Homo sapiens: one gene and its partners. The protein of the gene in region 1 purifies or fractionates together with the protein of each later gene. This does not show direct contact. Each region holds a gene or a part of one and is shown in the gene's direction. Other genes may lie near its edges.

The links. The genes of interacting proteins can lie anywhere in the genome.
Region 2: the proteins of FBXW11 (region 1) and ZNF704 purify together in Homo sapiens (affinity purification with mass spectrometry; 5 studies listed by BioGRID and IntAct, with this or other methods). This does not show direct contact.
Region 3: the proteins of FBXW11 (region 1) and NFKB1 purify together in Homo sapiens (affinity purification with mass spectrometry; 8 studies listed by BioGRID and IntAct, with this or other methods). This does not show direct contact.
Region 4: the proteins of FBXW11 (region 1) and USP47 purify together in Homo sapiens (affinity purification with mass spectrometry; 11 studies listed by BioGRID and IntAct, with this or other methods). This does not show direct contact.

The regions. Positions count from the first base shown.
Region 1 is NC_000005.10:171,898,639-171,902,138, reverse strand, and holds part of FBXW11 (F-box/WD repeat-containing protein 11), read left to right. Parts: intron 1-2,038; coding exon 2,039-2,225; intron 2,226-3,044; coding exon 3,045-3,135; intron 3,136-3,500.
Region 2 is NC_000008.11:80,868,282-80,871,781, reverse strand, and holds part of ZNF704 (zinc finger protein 704), read left to right. Parts: intron 1-3,500.
Region 3 is NC_000004.12:102,595,359-102,598,858, forward strand, and holds part of NFKB1 (nuclear factor NF-kappa-B p105 subunit), read left to right. Parts: intron 1-779; coding exon 780-974; intron 975-2,161; coding exon 2,162-2,303; exon of another isoform or gene 2,304-3,500.
Region 4 is NC_000011.10:11,949,972-11,953,471, forward strand, and holds part of USP47 (ubiquitin carboxyl-terminal hydrolase 47), read left to right. Parts: coding exon 1-33; intron 34-392; coding exon 393-511; intron 512-2,769; coding exon 2,770-2,900; intron 2,901-3,500. UniProt on the Homo sapiens protein: Ubiquitin-specific protease that specifically deubiquitinates monoubiquitinated DNA polymerase beta (POLB), stabilizing POLB thereby playing a role in base-excision repair (BER). Acts as a regulator of cell growth and genome integrity.

The DNA.
Region 1 (3,500 bases):
GACAGAATAGAGAGATATGGACTGGGCAATGGCACATATAGATGACTACAGACCGGATGTCGCAGTGTGGGTGCCCTGGGCATATTGATGCGGCATCAGTGCTAGCTTGGAGGGAAATATTATAATAATAGGTACTAATAGCTAGTGTCATGGGTGCTGTCCTTGGTTCTGACCCGTTTAACGTGTTTGCCAACATGGTTTAACATGTTTGCCTTAGTACTTTAGCCCATCATGCAGGTCTGGTGTGGAATACCCACTCTTCTGGGTGTGACAAAAATCAGAATTCTAGAGACTGAAATGGATGGGTCAGACAAAGCTTTGAAGGTGAATTATAGTAAGGATAAATATAAACCGCACAAAGCTGCCCCCCACCTTTCCAACTAGCTGTGCAAATAGAGCATTCGGGGAAATTGTTTCAATAGATGTTTTTGGGGGAGAGGCCTGGGATTTTATTCTAACTTACTGCCATCTTAGGCGTCTTCTGTGATATGACTATCAGATGAAGGCAGTGCAGCCTTTGACCACATTAACTGTAAATGACATGCAGGAAAGGACAGTGGTCCCAGTGTAGTCTTTATTCTTAGACCATAGCTTGGGTCTTTGATCTAGTCCAGAGTAAGAGAATTTTAGTATATGAAGGACCTGGAAATTATAACCAATGGTATAATAATAGTCATTCTTAGAATTGAAGGAACTTTAGTTTGTAAAGCATTTTTCATGCATCATCTCATTTTGATATTTTCAGAATCAAGTAGAGATTATCGTAATCTTATACAGATGAGGAAACTGACTCTGAAAGTTTAATAATTTACCTACATCTGGCCTTTCAACAACCAAGTTTAGTGCTATTATACTACTTCTAATTATTTTGAGAAAAGAGAACAGATATTAACCTTGTAGAGTGCTTGTCTATAAAATGTTTTCATAAAACTGTTGAATTTGATTCTGACAGACAGTGTAAGAAAGGATAGTTGTTACTGGTGATTACCATTTTGTATGTTAGGGCACAAAAATTCAAGGCACAGGGATGTTTCAGTGTTTGTTTCATGTCATAGAACTAGTAAGTGGTGAACCTGGGACTTGAAATGGGAATTTTCTGATGATAAGTTCTGTGTTCTCGTCCCTACACAGAATAAGCTTGGGGAGAAGCTTTATTTCTTGCAACTGTAGAAGACATACTTACCGCCACAGGATGGGAGTTTACAGGTGGCAACAGTGGTGGCCATGTTGATCATCTTCCCATTGTGAATGTCAGGCAGAGGCTGAAAGTGGTTTTCTTTGAGAGTATCCTTGTATCGTGGGAGGTTGAAGCCAATGACCTCTAAGATTCTAGGATTTGTAGACATGGGGCTATTGCTTTTGAGGATTGTCCCATCTGTTTAGGAACAGAAAATGGATACTCACGAAAGGGAGATGAAAAGATTGACAAAAATACATTTAAGCACAATCGACTTTAATTCTTGGATTGCCATTTAACTTTTCATAAGTTTTTCAAGATGAGTCGGTGTTTTGCCTTTTTTGTCTTCTGATCTCCCAGGGATTCACACCGGGTATGGATTAATGGGGATATGATTTGTTATGAGAGACAGTGAGTAAGATGGGAATGAACACAAACTTTGAAGCAAGAAATCCGAGTTCCAGTAGTAAAGCCAAGGGAGTGTAAAATCTTGAGTTCTTTACCTTTCTGTGCTTCATCTGTCAAACTTGGGGCGTCATTGCCCTATAGGAGTGCTGTGAGAGTTATATAAAAGAAAATGAAAAGTCTTATCTTAATATTTGACAAATAACAGAACTGTCCAAGGTCAGCTTTTACACACAGAGAAGAGTTGCTATCAATTGTTTTATCGTAAAAAATCAGAACCAAAAAGAAGTGTATATGTTTATGTACTCATGGATTTGAGTATCTGTAGAACTTTTGATATGACTAAAATATTTTACTTGGTTCAGGATTTCTTTATTCCTCTTATCTTTAAGGAAATGATGGCTGGTACCTTTCTATCTCTCTTCCCGTTCCTTCATTCCCTTTTCTGTTTTGTAGAGCAAGGCTTAGATCACATAGCAGAAAACATTCTTTCGTACCTGGATGCCAGGTCTCTGTGTGCAGCAGAGCTGGTATGTAAAGAATGGCAGCGAGTGATCTCAGAAGGAATGCTTTGGAAGAAGCTGATTGAACGAATGGTACGCACTGATCCCCTATGGAAAGGACTTTCAGAAAGAAGAGGGTGGTAAGTACTTGGGTTGCTTGTTCCCTTGAAAAAATTTTATTGACATAGAGTCAGCTTGATTACTCAAAAATGCAATTATACTTGCAAATGTGCTGGCCTATTTTTAAAAAGGGGGGAAAATGAGTGGTCAAAAGTTGGAAGAAAAAGTTAAAGCTGTTAAAATTTCTCCCTCTGAAATGTGTATTTCCTTTATGAACTGTATTATATAGTTTGATGGGATTTGGCGTTTCAAAGCTATGTATTTATGTTTTTTCCTTCACATTTTGCTTAGTTGATGATACCATTACCAAAATATAGATATGACAAAAATATGAGAAAGTCAGATAGTGCCATTTTGCTGTTTGTTATTACTGCTGGTTGAGGAAGTAATAACAGTGATAGGATTTTTCAGAGAAAACTCATAACTCTGATGCAGCTTTATAGCTAGCTGTATGCTGTATGGCCCAGTTAGCAAAGAGAGAGAGCTACAGACAGAGGTGCATATAGGGCTGTATTTTCCTTACGGGAGGAAGTTTGATGTGTACTAAGTTAGATTTTTCACAAAGCTACATTAGCGCTTTTTATTAAACTCTATGGAATGAAAGGCTAGATTGTTACATATTAGTACTCAGAAAACACGATCAGGATTTTGTTAGAGAGCTGTGAATTGAGCTAAACTTGTCTGTAACATGTAAATTTGTCAGAAATCCTGCTTTTGAACTGTTAAAACTCAATGCAAATTAAAAGACATGAAAGATATATCTTTGTCAGCACCATGTTTAGATAAAATTCACCCTTTTATGTGCAAAAATGTAACATCTGTTTGTTTTTATTTGCCAGGGATCAGTACCTGTTTAAAAACAGACCCACAGATGGCCCTCCAAATTCATTTTATAGGTCATTATACCCAAAGATTATCCAGGATATAGAGGTAACTTTATGATTTATCTGTTTTATGGGCTCTTTGTTTCTTGTTCTCAACTTTTTATGTTGCCTTAGAGTGTTCTTTTGGTCTAAAATCGTAGAACTAATAATTTTTTTTAAAAAGTTGAGCTTTTGGAGTAAATGTGTCATGTTGTATATAATCTGCAGCTATTCTGCAGAGAAAATAATGTCTTTTGCAAAGAATATCTAACTTTTCTAAAACATGAAATGCTTCTGCAAGGCTGCCGGTTAATTCAAACCTTAATCTAAAATCATCTTTTTATTCTAAGCTGATAAATTTTCCAAAATCCAAGGCCCCGTTTTTTTAAGTAAGCATTGTTTTACATTTTTGAGCCATCTCTAGAGAACTAG
Region 2 (3,500 bases), on another chromosome or scaffold:
AAGAGATTTTCTAATGGAATATCACTAGATAATTTTATTATAATGCATATACGAATGTTAACCTCTTACATATATTCATGCATTCATTTATTCAACAAATATTTATTGAACACCTATTATGTGCTAGCAGCTATTCTAGAACATAGCAGTGGACACCTTCCTGATGCTCACATCTAGTGAGAGGCATCATAGCAACAATCAAATACATAGATGCAGATGTACATGCATAAGCAAGAATAACACTTCAGATTGTGGTGTGTCCTGTGAAGAAAATCATGATATCTTAGAGTTTCAAAGGAAGAAGAGAAAGCTACTGTGGGTGAGATCTCTCTGAGGAGGGAACATTTGACCTGAGATATGAGACATTTCGCATGGGAAGAGCTTTCCAGGCAGAGGGAGTAGCAGTTGCAAGTCTTGAGGTGGAAAGGAGAAAAGGGTGAGTGTGGCTGGAACTTGGTAGGTATGAGATATGTCAAGGAGGCTGGGAGGTGCCTGCAAAGAGAGCCTGGTGGGCCCTTTAAAAGGATAGTGAAATCTTTGAAAAGTTTTAAGCAATAAAGTCTTACAAGGTAATTTGTAGTTTTCAAAAGATCCATGCTGTGTGGAGGACAGTAGTAGAGGCAGGGAGGCCAGTTGGGTGGCTGTCACTACACAGACCAAGGGAGGGAGAGGGCAGCTTGGAGTTAGAGATTGGCAGGAGATGGCAAATTCAGAATCTATTGTGAGGATCAACCTACAAGAACTTGTGGATGGGTTGGTTGATGGGTAATGAAGGAAAGGGAGGAATCCAGGATGAGACCATGATGTAAATGTTGGTTGAAGGTACCATTTACTAAGATTAGGAAAACCGAGAGAACAAAAATCAGGTTTTCTGTTTTGTGCATGTGAATTCTGAGATGACTATTGGACAACCAGGTGGAGGGTGTGGTTAGGCAGATGGTGGTGAGATGGGGAGTGGATAGGAGAGGTCAGGGATAGTGGGAGGAATTTGAGCGACATCAGTATGTTAATGTCATGTAAAGCCTGGGGGCTTTAAGGGAGTGCAGGGGGCCAAGAGAGGAGAGCCTGGGGCCTGATTCTGGGGCACAGCACTATTTAAGTTTGGGTGTAAATGGAGAAGCCAGCAAACACTATTGAGAAGCAGCAGCCAAATAAGTAGAAGGAAAACTAGAAAATCTAAAGTCCAATAAGCCAAGAGAAGAAATAGTTCCAAAAAGTGGGTGGGGAGTAATGAACTGTATTGAATGCTGCTGAGATATAGAATAAGAAAGAGAGAGAGAGATGTTCATTTGGATTAGATAAGATGGAACTTACTAGTGTCCTTGACAAGAGAAGTTTGAGTGATGTGCTTGGAGTAGGCTGAGCAGCCGATGAGAGGTGTGGACAGAGGGACACAGGAAAAACTCTTTTGACAAGTTTTTTGGAAAGGAGAACAAAGAGGAGGAGGAATAGCTGGAAGGCCTATGGCCTAGGTTTTTTTAAAAGATGGGATACAGTAGACCCTAGTGTTATGACTAAAGCATCATGGGAATTATGTGGAAGAGGGGTTATTAGTTTTCTATTGTAGTGTAGTGTAACAAATTACTACAAATTTTTTTTTGCTTTAAAACAGTTCTTAGAGTTTCTGTGGGTTAGGAGTCTAGGCTCAGCTTAACTAGGTTTTCTGTGAAGAGTCTCACAAGGCTGCAATCAGGGTGCTACATGGGTTGAGTTCTCATCTGAAGGCTTGACCAGGGAATAATTAACTTGTAAGCTTACATAGATTGTTGGCAGAATTCATTCCCTTGCATCTGTAGGACTGAGGGTCCTAGCTTCTTGCTGGTTATCAGTTGGAAGTTGTTCTCAGCTTGTAGAGCTCTTCTCCCCCTCCCCTTCCCTACTTACTGCTGTTTTTTGTCACATGGGACTCCTTAGCTTGGCCTCTTACTTCATCAAGCCAGCAAGGAGAATCTTAGAGCCTGCCTGCCAGCAAGATGGAGCCTTGCATAATGCAATGTAGTCAGGAGGAATAGGCCAGAAACTTGGCCATATTCTGTTGGTTAGAAGTAAGTCACAGGTTCCACCCACAACCTAAGGAGAGGGAATTTTACAAGGTTATAAACACCAGGTGGTGAGGATCATTGAGGGGTCATTTAGGGAGGAACCAAAGATGTAGAGAAAAGAAAAAACTACAGGAGGAAAGTCCTTGGAAAGCCTTAGGGAGGGAACCTGAAACCCAAGTAAAGGGCTGGCCTTTGGGAACCTTCCTCCATTAGATTGGAGAGAAGATGGAGAATATGAGTCCAGATGTGGGTATATTTTCTATATTGGGTGATGATCAGATGACAGTAGTTTTCTGATGGCTTCTGTTTTCTCCATGTAGCAGAAAGGAAGGTCATCAGCTGAGGGTGAGGGAGATTTGAAGTAAGAGCTGAAGGCATTGAGAGCAAATGTACTAGGGAGATGAATAGAGTTGCCAGACAGTATCAAGGACGCAACTGAGGTTTGTGATTCCACATTTATAGTTCAAGTAGTCTGTCTGGGTATGTGATTTTCCCAACTTTATTCCATGGCCTCATGCATAGAGTAATATAATAAAAATAATCCCAGCTAAATTTATTGAGTGCTTACCAGGGCCAGCACAAATCCAAGTGCATAGTCTCATTTAAATTTCATTACATATCCTCGAGTCAGGCATTATTGTTATCAACTTCATTCTACAGAAGGGATGAGCGACTTATTTAAAGATAAAAAGCTGTTAGGCATCAGAGCAGGGGTTTGAACCCTGCACAGTCAAACCCCAGAGGTGGCACCCACATGCATTACACTACGTTGCCTCTTGTAGAGAAAGTGGAGGACTGGATTGAGCAGAGGTGGGGTTTAGCCTGATGAGTGAGCAATAGAAAGAAAGAGATGGAATTATTGTTGAGAGAGTTGGCAAGTGTATGATGATAGACTGAGTGACATAAGAAGAGTGAGGGCAGGAGGGAGTGAGGGAAGGCAGAAAAATCATGTGTCAGTGGGTTGGAGAAAACAAAGGGTAAGCCAAAAAAATCAATAAAAGAATGGGAATGAAATCCACGACAGTTTGGGTTCCGCAGTAATATTAATTCAAACAAATATTTGTTGGGTATTTGTGAGACAGGAACTTTACTAAATGCTTTATATGAAGGAGGATCTTACAAAAATTTATGACTTGGGAATCAGTATAGCTCCCATTCGCCATCTGATGATGCTGACTGGAGGTGAAATATCACACTCCAGTATGTGGCCACAAGTGGGGAGCATGGGCTCACATCCATAGCCTGTGCCTTTAATCACTGAACTGGCATCTTTCTATATGTATTGGGATTCATGTGCCCATTTATTTCCAGGAAGATTTGAGAGGGCTGAGGAAACAGAGATAGATGCTACTAAGTAGCTGAGATTTGTTGCTTGATTACTCTAATGGATACTAATGTGGGCTTTAAATGAGATAAGAGAAACTTTGTATTACATGGTTTTCAATTTCTGATCAAAAG
Region 3 (3,500 bases), on another chromosome or scaffold:
CATCAAGTCATCCCCTGAGAAGCTGCAGTTAAACCACATGTTGATAGTTTATATTACAGGTCCATTCTAGTGTACCCATGGAAGAAATAATACTATAAAGAAGTCTTCCCATTTATTGAATACCTATTTTTGTGCCAAGTGCTTTTACATGTTTTAACTGTTATCTTCATGACTGCTCTATATGGAAAATAGTAACTCCATTTTGCACACAAAAGGCATCAAAGTTCAGAAATGTTCGTACTCACTGAAGGCACACAGAAGTTAGTGGCAGAACAAGAATTTGAAGCAGGTCTCCTGCAGAAAAGCTAGATGCTCTCATAGTATCTGTCAGATAACATAGTTGAACCTGAAAGAGGGTGATCAGGAATGGTACACTGGATAACTCCCACACTAAAGAATGTGAGTCGACAACACGTCTTTATGATTTGCTTTGTTCATTAGCATTAGGAAAAAACTGCTCTGTTTTCAAGAACTTTAAAAATTCAGCTTTCCTGCAATTCATAGAAGAGCTTTATTTCATTTTTCTCCTTTACAAATAAGCAAAATGAGATTTAAGATTTTAGAAGTATACTAAAAATGATTTTTAGAAATGAGTTTAGAATATCTCCAAAACATGGTATTTATGATATGACCATTTTTAAAAGAATTTTAAATTATTATTTTTCTTTTCCTTTTGCAGCAAACTTGTCTCTTACCTTTATCTGACCTACATTGGAATAGCGAATTATCACTAAATACATTTTACTGAGAAAAATCTGATGTTTTTGCATTTATCTTAGGAACCATGGACACTGAATCTAAAAAGGACCCTGAAGGTTGTGACAAAAGTGATGACAAAAACACTGTAAACCTCTTTGGGAAAGTTATTGAAACCACAGAGCAAGATCAGGAGCCCAGCGAGGCCACCGTTGGGAATGGTGAGGTCACTCTAACGTATGCAACAGGAACAAAAGAAGAGAGTGCTGGAGTTCAGGGTAAGTGAGCACACAAATTACGTTCTGTTGGTTGGCTGGGGAGGGGTCAGTCCTAGGTGCAGAAAGATATCTGCTAATCTAAAGATGATATATCAATATCTAGTTTAGTGTACTCTTCAAAGTTCTGTATGCCTTTGGAAAAGCATATGTCAGATCATTTTATTCACACTGGGATTTCCATTTTTGCTCTGTTATCTTTGAATGTAAAGGACAGAAATTTATATGTACATTCTCCAGTCATAATCATGCAGTTTTAGGGTATTGTGAGAGATAATCAACTTCTTTTCTGGCACAGATAAATAGAGAAGTATTTCCACAAGCTTAATAGTCACCCTGTCTAGATTCTGGCTTAACCGTCATACTGAAATAGAACTTTGCCTTAAAATAGGAACTTTTCTTTTTATCTTGTGCCCTCTTTGAAGAAGTAGGATTAGGAGAAAATGTACTTTTGCGTTTACTGTGAACCAATACTTATTAGCATATGTGTCATGATTCTAGGTCATCCTAGATCGTACTAAGAAGACGTCTATAAAAGCAAAGGTAGTAAATATTTAGAGTTGGTGGCCACATGTGGTGTCTATCACATATGCTTTTTTTTTACACCCCTTTAAAAATGTATAAGCCATGATTAGCTAGGGAGCTATATGAAAAGCAGGCCATAAACAGGTTTTGGCCCAAAGGTCACAAATGCCATTCCCTGACCTTAATGGAACAAACTTTACAAAAACGTGAGTGGCTCATTGAACGTCTCTGTTTATGGCAGAGATGTGTGTTTTTTCACACATTGCCTAACAAGCTAATTGTTAGAGATTCCAATGAAGGATTATTTCACCAAGATATTGGTGATTTAAAATCATGGTAAAATCTAACATTGTTTGGAGATTGTTTTCCTTAAAATAACAGATAATGGTCGTTCCCTTAAAATAATACATTTCTAAACTTTTTTCCTCTAACAAATCATACACAGATTCTTTAAGATCAATCTCTAACTATATTTGTCAGTGACCCAGTGTCCAATTCTGCTTTTTCTAGTCCACACAATCCAAAAGCATTGAAAGAACATTTTCAACTAAAATGATATGTCAAGGTGTCAGAACACTGATGCTGGTCAGTTTGTCCTTAAGCATGCCATACCCATAAAACAAAAGTAGGAACACTCAACTATGATTGTGGTCATTGCCTTACAGATAACCTCTTTCTAGAGAAGGCTATGCAGCTTGCAAAGAGGCATGCCAATGCCCTTTTCGACTACGCGGTGACAGGAGACGTGAAGATGCTGCTGGCCGTCCAGCGCCATCTCACTGCTGTGCAGGATGAGAATGGGGACAGGTAAGTCAGAACTTTTGCATGATAGGTTGTCCTGGGTGGGGAAGAAGAAGAGCATCGTATAATGCATACTGACTAGAGATAAAAATAATTGTTCAAATATATTGAGTCCTCTAACTGGAATGATGAAGAAAAATAATGTGTGAATAAGGTTAAGTAGCACAATTTGCTGCTCCATCCTGCTGCTGTCATCTGTTGGAATCTGTAGTAGCTGGAGGACTCATCTAAGAGTGAATCTCTCTGGGCAAGAAAACTAAGATGTGTGTAGGTAATGGTACTTTTTGAAAAGCCTTGCTTTGTTTATTGAAGTAATATTTGGAGAATTGTTAAGAGTCCTACCAAATCCCTGAAGCATTGTTATCCCAGCTGCATATTTATGACAGTGTACTCAAGAAAAAGCCCAATAAAGGCAGCAACAACAACAGAAAGATTAAGAGGGACTGGTCATTATTTCCCAGTTACTGGTTTCTTCTCTGCTCCCTCTTCTGATGGTCATCAGTCTATGACTGTTTCAGACTTTTGTGACTGCTCCAGCCCATATGTGGGAGTGGAACATTCCAAACACCATGCCTTCCATTCTTGCTATTACTGAGATTGTATTTGCAAAGCCACCTGGCTTCTTTCTAAAACAGTTCTCTTAGTCCTTTCATTGAGACTTCTAAAATGATCTCAAAAGCCTATAAAAATAACAAGAGACAGCAGCCTTCACATTCAAGTCAAGTGCCTTATCTAAAACCTTCCTAAAATAGCATCAACATAGAGAAATCCTTTTCTGTGGAAGAGCTCTTGAGTGCTGTGTTTTAGACTTCAGTTTAAAAATTAAACCAAGCACTTTAGGAAAGTAACAACCTCAGGGTTTCAAGCAGAGACACCTTTGTTCTCATTCCTTGCAACGTAACCAAGGATGTGGTATAACCACTGGCCTTGTTATACAGTATGAGAGGAACCAGTACAACCTTCTTGGTATAAAGCCATGAACAGCAGAATTCTTTTTCAGGGTTAAATAATCCAGTTAGCATTCAGTAGCATACAACCACAAGAAAAAGCAGTTAACCAAGACAGTACAGCAGTGTTTCAAGTGGCATTTCCAGGGACCTGTTAAATTGATAAGTCTAAGAAGATGAGCACATACAGGTTAGAAAGGAAGTGCTGATATCTGAAGGGAGGATTGTTGGAAGGGATACAAGGCGAGGCACATGC
Region 4 (3,500 bases), on another chromosome or scaffold:
GGAGCAATGTGGTTTAGAGCTCAGTATTGACAGGTAAAGTAAAATTAATGTCATCAGCGATTTGAAGAAAGACTATGTGGTCAGTTGAAATGGACTGGTATGATTTTCTAAAACTAGGAGAATTAAAATTTCCTGTGCTATTCAGAATTTTAGTATGACAGATTAGTTTAATAGGACTAAACAAGAGTATTAAAATTTTGTTTGGATTTCCTATACAGAATTCTAAATTTGAATTACTGGAAACATTTCTTTATTTCCCCAGATTTTAACAACTCATTATTTGACTTTTGTATTTGAACATAGTTCATTTTTCTTTGGTGTCAGATTAGTGTCAATCTTTAAATTGAGAGTTTCAAATTATAGTCGTTTTAAATGTCTTATCACATTTGTAGGTTTCGTCTAAGGAAAAAAACATGGAAGAATCCTGGCACTGTCTTTTTGGATTATCATATTTATGAAGAAGATATTAATATTTCCAGCAACTGGGAGGTTTTCCTTGAAGTTCTTGATGGTATTTTCAATATTTTTGGGGGGAAGTATCAGTTAGAAATACTCTAGAACTAATAGAAGCCTATAGTTTTTAATCAAATAATGAGTTACGAGGAATCTAATATACATTATAGTGTTTTGTGTTATATTAAGCATAACGATATCCTTATTATGGATTGATGTGATTCCTACCTACGTCTTATCCTTGGGAGTTTTATTTTCTTCCCCTGTGTCCTAATGTAACTGCTTAAGTTGTTTTTGAAAGAATAATCAGTGTCTTTCAGCCTTCTGCTATCTTTCTCTGGTTCCCATTTGCCTTTTAAGTATTCTTTTTTTGAATGTTGAGAATATTAATTCCCCCTTATGAGGAAATTACAAAGTTAGGTTTTTAATACATTTTAAGAAAACTCTGCTAATATTTTCTTAGCCACGTTTGTTCTTTAGTTTCTTTTTTACTATTATGGCTTATTTTGTATTGAAGACATGGTACTGATAATTTATCAGAGACTCAAGAACAATGACTATTTGTGTCCTAAGCCAGGTGGCTTAAAGAATAGAAGTGTATTGTCTCACAATCTGAGATCAGGCTGTCAACAGGGTTGGTTCCTTCTGAGTGCTGTGGGGGAGAATCTGTTCCATACTCTCTCCTAGCTTCTGTGGTTTTTGGCCATCATTGGCAACCTTGGCTTGTAGATACATCACCCCAGTCTCTGCCTTCATCTTCATGTGGTGTTCTTTCTGTGGGCTTGTCTGTCTGTATTGTTTTCCCCTTTTTCATAAACCACTAGTCCTATTGTATTAGGGCCCACCCTGAAGACCTTATTTTACTTTGAGTATCACTGGAAAGACCCTATTTCCAAATAAGGTCACATTCTGAGGTACTAGGGATTAGGATTTCAAAATGTCTTTTTGTGGGGGGCACAATTCAACCCATAGCAGTGACCTTGAGGAGGTCCAAGTAGCAGACATACTTGTCACACCTCCCAGTTTTCGTTATCAACATTGGCACATTTAAAGTATTGGTGTTTGGAGGGAGGCTTATAGGAGGAAAGTTGGCTTTTAGAAGATCACATCAAGGTAAACAACTAGTTCTATATTCTTTTTTTGCTGTTGCTTAGGAAAATTTTAATTTTCCTTTTCTTCTGTAGAAAGTAAAATATGAATTCTGGATATTTTGTTACAAGATTATCCTAGTTTTTAGAGAGCTCAATAATACTAACACCTCATGTATTTCAGGCTGCTTCAGGTCTAATTCAACCATAAATTTAAATGGTTGAAATTCTGATTAATTGACAAGTTAAGTTGGGAGGTAAGGAACAACTAGGATACCATCTACTATGGTGTGTAGGCAAGTGCTCCAGATTGTGATTTCTTTGAGTATCTGGGGTCGTAGGGAATAATCACTGTGCCTGGGTAAGTCAGGAAGAGATCATAAATGACAAAGAAGTCACCCTTGTAAGGATTGAGTATGTATTAGCAGAGATGGATTCATCTGAAAATGGTACTAGATGGTGGGTGCCTGCATCAGTATTATTTCAGTATATTTTCACATCAAGATAGTTGAGTAAGAAATGTCATGTGATTAAATCCAAGAGGTATTTATTGACCTGTAATTTGCCAGACACTGCTAATCCCTTGTGCTACAAAAATGAGTAAGAACCACTTATTGGTGCACACAGTCTGTGGAAGAAACAGAACTGCAAACCTGTCATTCTAAAATAATAGGTACTAAGGGACTGAATCAGTAGAAGTTCTTCTTGTGTACACCAGAGAAAAGTGACAATTGAGTTGATGCTTGAAAAGTGACAATTGAGTTGATGCTTGAAAAGTGACATAATGGAAAAGTGACAATTTTGAAGAATCACTAAATTGGGGAGTAAATGGAAAGAGAAGGATTAATAATAGCTTTAGTGAAAAAAGAGGATAAAGTGAAGTTGATTTGTTTATGATTTTAGATAGGGATAGGAGCCAATAGAGAAACAAAGATTGGAAATCCAGAGAAGAGAGTAATTGGTAATGCAGTGTTCAACAGGAGTCAGGAGGGAGTGGAATTAGGAGTACTGGTTTGAAGAAGAGAGGAATTATCTTCTGAGACTGGAGAGAAGAGAGTAAATATTTCATTCTCAAAAACTCCTTGGGATAATTGGGTTTTTTCTTGTGCCCACTTTTTAAGAGTAACACTTGAAGTAAATCTTTTTGTTTAGTAAGGCACTAAGGGAAAAGTCAAATTATGAACCTTCAGAGGAAATAGAATGATGACCTAATCTTGCATATTCTTAGGGGTAGAGAAGATGAAGTCCATGTCACAGCTTGCAGTTTTGTCAAGACGGTGGAAGCCTTCAGAGATGAAGTTGGATCCCTTCCAGGAGGTTGTATTGGAAAGCAGTAGTGTGGACGAATTGCGAGAGAAGGTAAGTTCATTTTAAACAAAACATGTATCTTATGTTGTATATGTATATCATAATATTAATAAAATATATAATATATAAACAATACATTCTTCCTGTGTTGCGTAAGAGAAAACCTAGGAAGTAGTACCAAACACTGGTGCAGCAACCTTTCTTTTTGGTTTCTGTCACACCTTGTGGCACACTCTGGTTGTTCAGGCTCCTGATTCTTTGAAAAATTACTTTGGCTCCTGGCCATTCAGAAGTGGATCCTCACTTTCTGTTACTTGGACCAATTTTGTCCTAAGTAGTTAGAATTAGTTAGAAGTTACTAGAGTGAATTGCTTTATGTCTAAAAAAAACCAAATGAAGTCGAATTGTGTAGAGAATCCAGATGAAGGTCTGTTTTGCATTTTAAGATGGGATATCTAAGGATCTCTGGGGAAAGGGTGAATTAGTCAATCTGTGGTACTAGCACAATGAGCATTTTGAAAAAGATTTATTTCCATACTTCATACTAAACACAAAAATAAATTCTAAATGTATTAAGTTTATATATAAAAAAAGTAAATGTACTAGGTGAAAATATGTAAAATATTAAATACTAAAAATATTTTCATATTC